Homo sapiens: one gene and its partners. The gene in region 3 interacts genetically with the main gene of each other region. Each region holds a gene or a part of one and is shown on either strand. Other genes may lie near its edges. The genes, in order: GHSR, PARP1 and AKT2.

Evidence for each region.
Region 1: changes in AKT2 (region 3) and GHSR together harm fitness less than expected from each alone (positive genetic interaction), as found in Homo sapiens cells (one large-scale study listed by BioGRID).
Region 2: changes in AKT2 (region 3) and PARP1 together harm fitness less than expected from each alone (positive genetic interaction), as found in Homo sapiens cells (one large-scale study listed by BioGRID).

What each region holds. Positions count from the first base shown.
Region 1 is NC_000003.12:172,445,548-172,449,621, forward strand, and holds the start of GHSR (growth hormone secretagogue receptor type 1), read right to left. Parts: upstream 2,910-4,074; 5' UTR 2,867-2,909; coding exon 2,071-2,866; coding exon of another isoform or gene 1,997-2,070; exon of another isoform or gene 1,996-1,996; intron 1-1,995. UniProt on the Homo sapiens protein: Receptor for ghrelin, coupled to G-alpha-11 proteins. Stimulates growth hormone secretion. Also binds other growth hormone releasing peptides (GHRP) (e.g. Met-enkephalin and GHRP-6) as well as non-peptide, low molecular weight secretagogues (e.g.
Region 2 is NC_000001.11:226,366,482-226,370,127, reverse strand, and holds part of PARP1 (poly [ADP-ribose] polymerase 1), read left to right. Parts: intron 1-1,806; coding exon 1,807-1,929; intron 1,930-2,519; coding exon 2,520-2,648; intron 2,649-3,646. UniProt on the Homo sapiens protein: Poly-ADP-ribosyltransferase that mediates poly-ADP-ribosylation of proteins and plays a key role in DNA repair.
Region 3 is NC_000019.10:40,236,832-40,240,477, forward strand, and holds part of AKT2 (RAC-beta serine/threonine-protein kinase), read right to left. Parts: intron 3,280-3,646; coding exon 3,214-3,279; intron 2,143-3,213; coding exon 2,074-2,142; intron 1,261-2,073; coding exon 1,138-1,260; intron 1-1,137. UniProt on the Homo sapiens protein: Serine/threonine kinase closely related to AKT1 and AKT3. All 3 enzymes, AKT1, AKT2 and AKT3, are collectively known as AKT kinase.

The DNA of each region.
Region 1 (4,074 bases), on a different chromosome or scaffold from region 3:
TTCATGGTCTATGACCATTGACTTCAGAGAAACATTGTGTCCTGCTCTTCCTGTTCCAACATTTTAACAAAGATTCAGTCTGTCTGGACCAACAGTTCAACAATTTTTACTGAGCTCCCCAGTCATTTCTATTTAACAACTATCTGAGTGATTTTGTACTGAGTTGACACATTGACTCAACTGACTAGACCATTTATTCACAATAGTCCAGCAGTTTTTATGTGTTAGACACAACAGACACACTTACGAGGTAAAGTGGTTGTACTCAACCATAGCTGTGTATCCGAGTCTCCTGGGGCACTTTTTAAAACAATGCAGATTCCTTGGATGTAGTATAGACTCAGTCAATTTAAATCTCTAAGAGGGCGATCAGGACATATGTTTTATCTTCTCTTTTTTTTTTTTAAGTTTCACAGAGGATTGAATATACAGTTAGGATTAAGAATCACTGAGATGAATGATTCTATGCCACTTACAATAGACATAAGTAAGGCTATTATTAAACCAACTCATATAAATTATCATCCATCCAAGTCTTCATTTTGCCTATGTAAGATAATTTTTAATGATGTCTAAATGTTTAGATTGTTTTAAATTCAGAAATCAGGGAAAAATAATAACAAATAATTTTTTAGTCGTTGTAACACTTTAGTGATCCCCTTCAAATTGTCAAGGAAGAAGAAAGTTAACATTGGTGTTGAGACACCAATGAAGAAATTAATGGCTTGAAAATAAAATTGGAGGAAATTATTAAACTTATCCTTAAAACTAAGTTGTATAGTAGCAACTTAACTGCCACAGTAACAATGTGACTCTCGTAGGTGAGAGCTTAGGATCCCTTGGAGGACACTAGCAGGTTTATAACCTATGAGTCATATCACGAGAATCACCGGTCCAGAAAATAAAATCTTTGACATTCCTTGAATAAACTCTATCACTTTAATATGGAGGATCCAGGAACTGTAAAATTGGAAATATGAAATCATCCTGGAATGGCTTCTAAGAAGCCTTAAAATATGCCATTAAGTATGAAGTCTTGACTATAATATCTAAATAATAAAATATACAGACCTTGGTTTTGAAAATGCAAGTAGAGTTAATATTTTGCTGGGCTGTAACCATATTTATTATTACTTCACTTGTACCAAACACATATACTTAAAGAAGCTGAATTTGTGCAATAAACATTCAGCAAATCCAGTTATGACATTGTGCCCAGATGTTCCTGAAGGGTCATTTGGGGAAGTAGTGAATTCTGTTGGTTTCCACAAAGTCTCCTTTCCTCCTGTTGGAGCTTTGTTTAATCTAGTTTATCCTTACCTTATCCTAGTCTATCCTACCTGAAGAGGCAGGTAATCATAAAAACAAATGAGACTTCACTGATTTGTCACTGACTTCCTTACAAAGCTGTATGAACAGCAGCAGGGTAAACAGAATTGATGCAATTATCTGAAAAAATGCAGGGCAGAAAACAAATCACAATATTGAAAGAAAAATGAATAATCTCTAAGAGGATTATCCAAATTGATCATGTCTTTGGTTGAATTTACCGCTGAACGCTTTCTAGATCCAAACCCTGCTTTTCTTAATGTAACTTAGATATTCACAAATCCTACTTGAGGCAGGAAGTCAGTCCTCACTTTTAACGCTTAAAGACCACAATGGACTTTTATAAGATATCTCGATTTTTAAAGTGGAGTTTCTGGGCTGATATAAAATTTATTTTAGGGAAATACAAATATGGGACATTTTTGCATGAAAGAGAGAAAGGAGAGACAGGAAGAAAGAGACACAAAGAGATAGAGACGGTAAGAAAGACACTGACAAAGTAAAGGGGGAGGAGAGAGAGAGACAGAGACAGAGAGAAAGATTGAGAGATCAAAAACATCACTCAAGAAAGCAAGAGGAGAGAATAATTGAGAGAAACGCAGAGAGACAGAGGCCCAGAGAAACTGAAGAAAGAGGTAGCGACTCAGGGGGAAATAGAGATGGAGACTCAGAGAGAAGGGAGAAGGCACAGGGAGAGGATAGGACCCGCGAGAGAAAGCCTGAGCGCGCGCTGAGACCCACCCAGCATTTTCACGGTTTGCTTGTGGTTCTGGTCCCTGAGCGAGGCACCCACGACAGCATCGCCGCGCCTCCTCCGCCACAGCTTCCTGCCGATGAGACTGTAGAGGACCGTGAGACAGAAGACAGGAAGGAAGAAGAAGATGCTGGACACCCACACCATGACCGTGAGCAGTCCAGAGCGCACCGCAAACTCGGTGGGGCGGCACTCGTTGGTGTCCCAAGGGTCGGTGCCGTTCTCGTGCTCCACCCCGACTAGCACGAAGATGGGCCCGGCGCTGCAGAAGGCCACGGCCCAGATGACGAAGATGACCAGCTTCACCCGCCCCTTGGTGACCACCACCTTGGCCCGGAGTGGGAAGCAGATGGCGAAGTAGCGCTCGACGCTCAGCGCTGTGATGGTGAGCACCGTGGCGTAGGTGCAGCTCTCACTGACGAATTGGAAGAGTTTGCAGAGGAGGTCGCCGAAGTTCCAGGGCCGGTACTGCCAGAGGCGAACGAGGTCCAGGGGCATGCAGAGGAAGATGAGCAGATCGGAGAAGGCCATGCTGGACAGGTAGAGGTTGGTGGTGGTGCGCAGCTCGCGGAAGCGCGACACCACCAGCATGGTGAGCAGGTTGCCAGCGATGCCCACCACGAAGAGTGCCACGCAGGTGGCTGTGACGCCCGCCAGCAGCGGCGCGGGGAAGAGCTGCAGCAGCTCGTCGCCCAGCGAGTCGTTGCCGGGGGAAGCATCCCAGTCCAGGTCGGCCAGTGTGAGGTTGAACCCCGGCTCTTCGCTGGGCGTCGCGTTCCACATGCTGCCGGCTCAGCTGAACAGGCTCTGGGACGTGACTGCGCTGGGAGGCTGGACCGAGCTGGCTCCCGAGGAGGTCCGCTTAGGCGCGGGAGGGTGCGAGGGAGGAGCGGGTGCAGACGCGTAGGGAGGATGCTTGGAGAAGAAAGAGAGGGAGGTGAGAGGCAGAAGCCGAGGAAGAAGGTGAGATGGGGACAAGGAAGAGGGAGAGAGACTGGTGGTCAGTGGGTGAGAGAGTGACCCACTGCTTTCTCTGACACCTCCCCTTTCCCCCACCAACTCCCCCAAAGTTTCTCCCAACACATCCTCCGGCCGGCGCCCACACGCATACCTGTCACCAGCCCTGCCTCGCATTTGCGTTCTCGATCCAGTTCCATCTCGCACTTCCCAAAGCGTCGCAGCGAGTGGGGACCGCAGGGACCAGGCGCCGCGAAGCGGGAGCGTGAGGCGCTCTCTCCGAAGCCCTGGGCGACGCTGGACTAGTGTGCCCCGGAAGGACAGGTCACACCCGGGGGTGGGGGTGAAGACGACGGTGGCGGTGGGGAGGACACCTTTAGCAGCTGGGACCTGATTTCTTCCTCCACAAGGCTGCAGCTGGCTATGGCCCTGGTGGAAAGAAAAAGCGAGCTTGACCAACTCGACTTGGGAAGGGGGATAGAGAGAGAAAAGAAGGACCTTGTGTTTGTATTCATACCGGTGAGCACCAAAGAATAGTCTCACGCAGTTATAGGACCCAGGTTCAGCGATGTGACTACTTGTCCAAGGTCACACAGCGAGCTGGGGACTCGGGGACCAGTGTCGGATCTCCCACCCGGTTGGGACTTCTGAGCGCACAGGGGCAAGATATGTGAGTAAACCCTGTCCAGAATCCCAGTCCTTTGTATCACTCGGTAGTGGTAGAGAGTCTGCTGTAGGGTATATTACTTTTGCTTGATGCAAACCTGGTGGCGGGGTGCCGAGGTTGGTCAGGGAGGGAACAGGAGAAAGGAAAAAGGCAGGGTTGGAGGTGTGTGGAGGCGGCAAGTGAAGAAGAGGCTGTGAGGCTGGCGCGTCGAGAGTGTGCAGGAAACATTTTTTGAGGCATAACTGAGAGAGATCAGCCATTTAGTAGCCGTATTCCCTTGGGCAAGGTCTTCAACCTCCTGAGCATTACGTCTTTTTCTTTGAATTGCAATGATTTGTGCGGACCACTGGGGGTGATATCAAGTGTC
Region 2 (3,646 bases), on a different chromosome or scaffold from region 3:
GGGATTGGTTCCAGGACTCCCTCGGGGTTACTAAAATTCACTCATGCTCAAGTCCTAGAGTGCCCTGCAGAACCCATGGAGGAGAAAAGTTGGCCCTGCACATCTGTGGGTCTCGCATCCTGAGATTTTTTTTTTTTTTTTTTGGTGGGATTTTTCTTTCTTTTTCTTTTTTGAGACAGAGTCTTGCTCTGTCCCCCAGGCTGGAGTGCAGTGTCACAATCTCAGCTCACTGCAACCTCCATCCCCAGGTTCAAGCGGTTCTCGTGCCTCAGACTCCCAAGTAGCTGGGGTTGCAAGCATGGGCCACCACACCCGGCTAATTTTTTTGTATTTTTAGTAGAGGTGGGGTTTCACTATGTTGGCCAGACTGGTCTCAAACTCCTGGGTTCAAGTGATCCGCCTGCCTCAGCCTCCCAAAGTGCTGGGATTACAGGCATGAGCCACCACACCTGGCCTGAGAATACTATATTTTTTATCTGAGTTTGGTTGAATTCTCAACTGCAGAGCCCACAGGTGTAGAGAGCTAACTGTATTTATTGAAAACATCTGTGTATAAGTGGACCCGCATACTTCAAATCGATTGTTCAAGGGTCACCTGTGTTGTGGTTTTTATTTTATGTGTCCTTAAGAGTTAGGCAGAGTTTATTTTGCAGTTACTAGGAAGTCATCAAATGGAAGCCTCTTTCATTCATGTTATTTCAACATTCTTTGAGCATCTTTCAAGGTCTACCAGTCCCGGAGCCTTCCAGCTACATCCTGGAGGGGCTGGAGGGTTCCGCTTATATTTGTGGGTGGGTGCAGGCCTGGCCTGTAGAAAGAAGGAAAGCACACAGGAAGCAGAAGTGGGCCCAGGCAGCGGGCTTTCTGGCTGGTGCTGGAGAAAAGGCGCTGAACCGGATCTGTCAACTTCAGTTACAGCTGGCTCTGAGCAGTGAACCTCTCTCCTTGTTCCTTACTGACTGAGAACTTACAAGGCTTTCCTCGGCCCCAGCTTCTTCCCATGCAATAGTCTTCAGGAAGAAGAGCTGGAATAGCATCCTTACCCATTGCCAGAGCCACCTGGGCAGCACAGATGGAAGTTGTACAACTTGGTGAAGTCCATGTCACAGCGAGAAGCAGGCGTGGGGCTTCGGACCTGCTGGGTGCCACTTCATATTCCCTTGACCTTCCTGTGGTCACCTAGGCTGTCTGCGAAATTCCTGGAATCCCAGTGGCCCCGCTCTTCCATCTCTGTGCATTTTTTGTGCACCCTTTGCATATAGAGCACCAAGTGACACTGGCAGTGAGTGTAAGGATTGCTTAGCCTTTCTGTGCCTGGCCACCTCAACCTCCAGGTACAGTAAAAACTAATTCCAATGAAGGTCAGTGGAGGCAGGGAGCCTGACTGAATTTTATAGCGATGGGCAACCTCCTCCCAACATTTTATTATGAAAATGTTTCAAACATACAAAAAGTTGAAGGAATTTTACAGCAATAGTCATTAGCCCACCACCTAGATTTTACAGTTAACATTTTGCATAGTTGTGGCGGGGTTTCAAATGTCTGTAACTGCACAGTTCTTTGTACAAATGAAACTTCATGGGAGAAGCCCATCACGTGTTGAGCAGTGCTTTTAGAGGATGGGGGTCCTGCCCTGCTCTTTAACAGGAAGATGGTCTTCTGGTCGTTTCCCATGTGTCCTGGCATGTGCACATACCACGCTACTTCTGGACCTGCTGCAGCACCCACCTGCTAAAAGAGAAAGCCTGGCCGGGGGCTTGGAGCTGCTCCCTCAGTCTTGCATTCCTTCTGTCCCCTCCTCTCCAGGCGGTGTCTCAGGGCAGCAGCGACTCTCAGATCCTGGATCTCTCAAATCGCTTTTACACCCTGATCCCCCACGACTTTGGGATGAAGAAGCCTCCGCTCCTGAACAATGCAGACAGTGTGCAGGTAGCGCAAGGGTTCAGAAGGGACTGCAGGTCTGCTGGGCTGGGGTGTGACTACCTTGCAGCCGTCCCTCCCCATCATGATCCCTGAGGGCAGCACCAATGCTGGGAGGGCCACCCTCTTGCCCTTGTTTTGAAGTTGGGTTTCTACCCACATTGATGGAGGCAGAGCTGTTTTTCCTGCCCCTGTTCTACCAAATCCACTGGGGAAAGAGCTGTTGGAGAGGGACAGCCTCTCCCTCATAACAGCATCTTCCTCCCCATTTTCCCTCCCTGCCTTTTAAGACAGCTCCTGGCTCAGGACCCATTTGTCTAAAGTACCTTCACTGTAGGTCCCAAATGTCAGCATGTACGAGAGGAAAGACAGTTCTTCCACCTCTCAACTCCCCCAGGCCACAAGGCCTTGTTAACATTCCAGAAAGTCCTTATGAGCTCTCAATATGTGCAGCAGGTAACAGGCTGGCCCTGACCAGCAGGAGGGTTTGCCATTCACTGTGTTGGACCTTCTCTGCATGTAGGTTTTCTCTGCCACCTGGGTGAGTCTGTCTCATTCACCATGATACCTAAGTCGGGGGCTTTCTTTTGCTCCTCCAGGCCAAGGTGGAAATGCTTGACAACCTGCTGGACATCGAGGTGGCCTACAGTCTGCTCAGGGGAGGGTCTGATGATAGCAGCAAGGATCCCATCGATGTCAACTATGAGAAGCTCAAAACTGACATTAAGGTAACAGGGTCAGGCCTTCCTCAAGCATCTTAACCTCTCATCCTGAGAGCAGCGGTCCCAAACTTCCATGTGTGTTAGGATCTCCTGGAAAGCTTGTTAAAACACAGGTGGCTGGCGCCCAATAATTCACTTTTCTAACAAGTTCCCGGACATTGCTGCTGGTGGTCCTTTGAGAACCTTTGGGCGTTTCACGTGTAGATAATGCACCTTGTTTGCAAGGCAGCCTTCCAAGCCAGCACCTCAGCTTGGCGTACAAATTTATTTTTGAGGGTCTTACCAAAAGTTCTTTTTTGTTTGTTTGTTTGTTTGTTTCCTCTCCTTAATCTAGAGAGGAGCTCTGTTTTTCTAAACCCTTGTAGCGTGAACTTTTAGAAGACTTATTACCGGTGTCCATTTCAGAAGTGGAAATGCTTGATGGCACCTGTAATAAAAACACAATGCTTGCGTTCATTTTTCTCTGGTGCTGAAGTGGACTGTGTTGGCACACACAGTCTCTGAACACCCCGCTTAGACCAACTAGAGGAGGGATTTTTGCCTCAGCTTCTAGATGGCCCGGTCCTTGAGCCTATCTCCACACTCATGTGCCCCATTGTCCTCAGCCCATTCCCTGCAGTGTTGCAGGGGTTTGGGTGGGCGAGAGTATGTTGAGTCTGGTACCAGGTGTTTACATCGCTAAAGAAAGAGCCTTGGCTTCTTTCCTAGGACAAAGTATAGACCTATGGGTCCAAGCAGGGTAAGACACCACATGTCATTTGTTTTGCCCCTAGAGCACCTTCCTGATGGGAAAACTGTAGGTGTGGTTCTTCGTGAAGGGATTCTTATTCTCTTTTTACAATTCTGAAGCCTTTTAATTAAAAGACAGGGAGGTAGACCAGCATTCTAGGTTTTCTGAAGTTTGAATATAAATATGAAAATAAAACATAACTAGTCTCCTCCGTAATACTCAGGCTTACTGAGCATAGATTACATCAGCTATTTGACAGATGCTTGTTAGGCCT
Region 3 (3,646 bases):
TGGGCAACACAGCGAGACCCCATCTCCATATTTCTTAATATGAAAAAAAAAATTAGCCAGGCATGGTGGCACACACCTATAGTCCCAGCTACTTGCGAGGCTGAGGTGGCATCTCCCCCTGGAAGGCCCTGTGTGCCCCTCCCGGTTACTGACCATCCCCCACAAGAATTAACCTCTACTTCCCATCTGTACCACTGCACACAGACACACCTGTGAACTGTGGACTCACCTCCTCTGTGCGGCTTTCCCTCGACATTAGCCTATGAGACGCGTCCACACTGTCGTGTGTAGCTGTAGCTCATTCCTAACTGCTGTGTGGCGTCCCACTGTGAGAACACTCCACAGTGGATCTGACTGTTCCTCTCACAGTGGATACTTGGGTTGTTCCAGTTGGGGCTAGAGTAAGTCCTGCTGCTGAGTGAGGGGGACACTTTCTAAGGTGAGTGTGTGTCCCCACTTCTCCTGTGCACACAGCTAGGGCAGATGACTGGTGCTCAGCTTTGGTGGACACTGCCAAACTATCTTCTAAAATTGGCCGGGCGCGGGGGCTCATGCCTGTAATCCAAGCACTTTGGGAGGCTGAGGTGGGTGGATCACAAGGTCAGGAGTTTGAGACCAGCCTGGCCAATATGATGAAACCCCGTCTCTACTAAAAATACAAAAATTAGCTGGGCATGGTGGCGGGCACCTGTAATCCCACCTATTCGGGAGGCTGAGGCAGGACAATCGCTTGAACCCGGGAGGCAGAGGTTGCAGCGAGCCGAGATCACACCACTGCACTCAACAGAGTAAGACTCCTCAAAAATAAATAAATAAATAAATACAAATAAAGTAGGTATTGTGGCAGTTGACACTCCGCTAGTGGCCTAGGAGCGCTCATGGGAGGCTTGGGAAGGTCCCTACTTGGGGCAACTTGCCACAGAGCCACCACCCTGGACCTTGGTGGGGAGCCTGGTGAATGAGGGCAGCCACCACCCTGGACCTTGGTGGGGAGCCTGGCGAATGAGGGCAGCCACCACCCTGGACCTTGGTGGGGAGCCTGGCGAATGAGGGCAGAAGCTCAGCCCAACTTCCCCAGTGTGAGTCCCATGTGGTGTGCATGCCACAGGTCAGCCTGGCGCACACCCTGCCACTAACCTTGATGTCGCGGTATACCACGTCCCGCGAGTGCAAGTACTCAAGAGCCGAGACAATCTCTGCACCATAAAACCGGGCCCGCTCCTCTGTGAAGACACGCTCCCGGGACAGGTGGAAGAACAGCTGCAGGAGGAAGGGGTGGGGAGAGGAGGTCAGGCCCCAGCCCACCCACCTGCCCTCACCTTCCCAGCCCCCTGCCCCAGCGCAGTGATGTGGTGACACCTGTATCATGAACCAGCAAGTGACAGCTAGAGGGACCAATCAAGGCAGAGCGCAGAAGCTCATAAGTGACACAGAGCTGGGGGGAAGGGCGAGGGTCTGCCAGGAGGCACCCATGAGAGGGTATGGGAGAGACATCCGAGACAGGAGGGAGGATGGCATGGAGGCAAAAAGAAGCACACGTCATGACCAAGTAACAATAGGCCATGGGCAAGCCCAGATCAGACAGATGAGCAAACCACGCATCCCAAAGCAGGTGTGCCAACCACTGCACAGAGAAGGCGCGAGGCAAGGAGTGGGTGACAAAAGTGAGGCGACTCTGTAAGGGGAAGCTGAGCGGCTGCGGGAATTCACTTCGAGAGGACACGGGAACGGAGGGCTGCTAGGTTTTAACCCTTGGGGGCTTTCTCTGGGGCCTTTAAGACCATCCTTCCCAGTGCTATCGCCCCACAGCCCTCTCCACACCTCTCTGGACTGGTTTGGACCTGACCCACCCACTCACTAGCTGTGTAAACTTGGGCAAGCCACTTAACCTCTCTGAGCCTCAGTGACTGCCCCCCCAAAATGGAGACGAAGCCGCCTGCCTCAAGGGAGAGGGGCACTAGATGACACTGAAATTTCCCTCCACCCTTCCATCTCACCCACAGCTCCTCTCCATCCCGCCCCACCCTAAAGAAGGAGGCCCCAGAGGGCAAAGTCAAGGCAGCCGCGGCTCACCTCACCCCCGTTGGCATACTCCATCACAAAGCACAGGCGGTCGTGGGTCTGGAAGGCATACTTCAGCGCCTGGGGGATGAAGGCAGCAGGGTGGGAGGTGGGAGGGAGGAGGGCTCTGCTGAGCCATGCCAGGGCAGGGCCCTGGCCCTGCTTATTCTGCACACACACACCCTGCCCTGGCTGGGGCCCCCAGGAGTCAGCCATATGGGGTTCACATACCGGCTGCACCTTTTGGGGCATTAAGTGAAGGCATGGCTCTGCGGTAGGAAAGGGTTACATGCTGAACCATCTTGTCCTCTGCCTCCATCAGGCACAGCCAAGGGAGAACTAGAGCTGTTCTGAGCAACCATGGCTCTTGTTTTTACAGTAAAATGTGTTCAACTTACACACACAAGTGATGTCTGCTGTGGCTGGGAGTGGCAAAGGCTTGGGAGCCAACTTCAATGACAGGATGGACAGGCTGTCAGTCAACAAACAGTAGTTCTCCACTGCACTAAGGAGATCTACAGAGAGTTCCTCAGAGACTCCCACCAGGGGGTCCTTCAGCTCATGACAACTCAACTATTCTGTTTTCTGCACTGAGGTACCTCATAAGATTTTATTTGAAAAAGTACTGTGGCTTAATAGGATACCTGGACAGCAACTGAGATAAAGAAATGATACATAAGCCATCCTCAATCTAGTCCATTTAACTGGTGGCCACTGGCCTTGATGGAGACTGCAGCCCAAACAGGCATCTACTCAGTCCAGGCTGACAGACAACACAATGCTAACACATCTGCTTCTATGAGCATATCTGAAAACAAAAACAAAAAAAATAATGTTTCCACTTCAACCAGCTGGGCTAAGTGCTCCTAACTCATAGAGACAGCAGCCAGCAAATAATGTGATATCTTCAGTTAGTTCAAATGCTTACATGAAGCCACCATCTATGAAGAAGCTGTCACCCTCCCACTCCCCGAGCCTGCTCACCCCCACCACATGTCTTGGTTCGGATGACTTGGCAGGGCGCAGCAACACCTTGCCCTGCCCGCCTGGCCTACCCCAAGACTGTGCTTTGTACCAGAAGATTAGGGCTCTCTCTCTGAGCTCTGTCCAAAGGCTGGCCTCACACTGTCTGGGAAGGGGAGGGCAACTCACAGTGAGGAACGGGTGCCTGGTGTTCTGGAGGACCCGGCTCTCGGTGACTGTGTGAGCGACTTCATCCTGCAGACAGACTGCGGGTGAGGGGCTGGTGGGCAACACCACACCTGCCCACTCCGCCCCGACGAAGGGGAGCAAGGCCTTGTGAAATGCAATTCCATTCCCAGCCATAAATGCAGAAAATCACAGGAGTGAAAAGTGAAAGCCTGCAAACCCTCAGCAAATAGCAGACCCAGACGAGGATCATCAGTGGCTCTCAAAGCCACAGGTGAAAAGTCAGCAGGAATGTCACAATGTAAGGACCAGGCTGCTAGGGACAAGACACCTGTGACGTCCCTGCAAGGGAGACAAACAGACATCACGAGAGCCCCGAGGTGCCACCACAGGCTGTGGGAAGTCCCACCTAGAAAGCATTCTTGCCCAAAGAAGG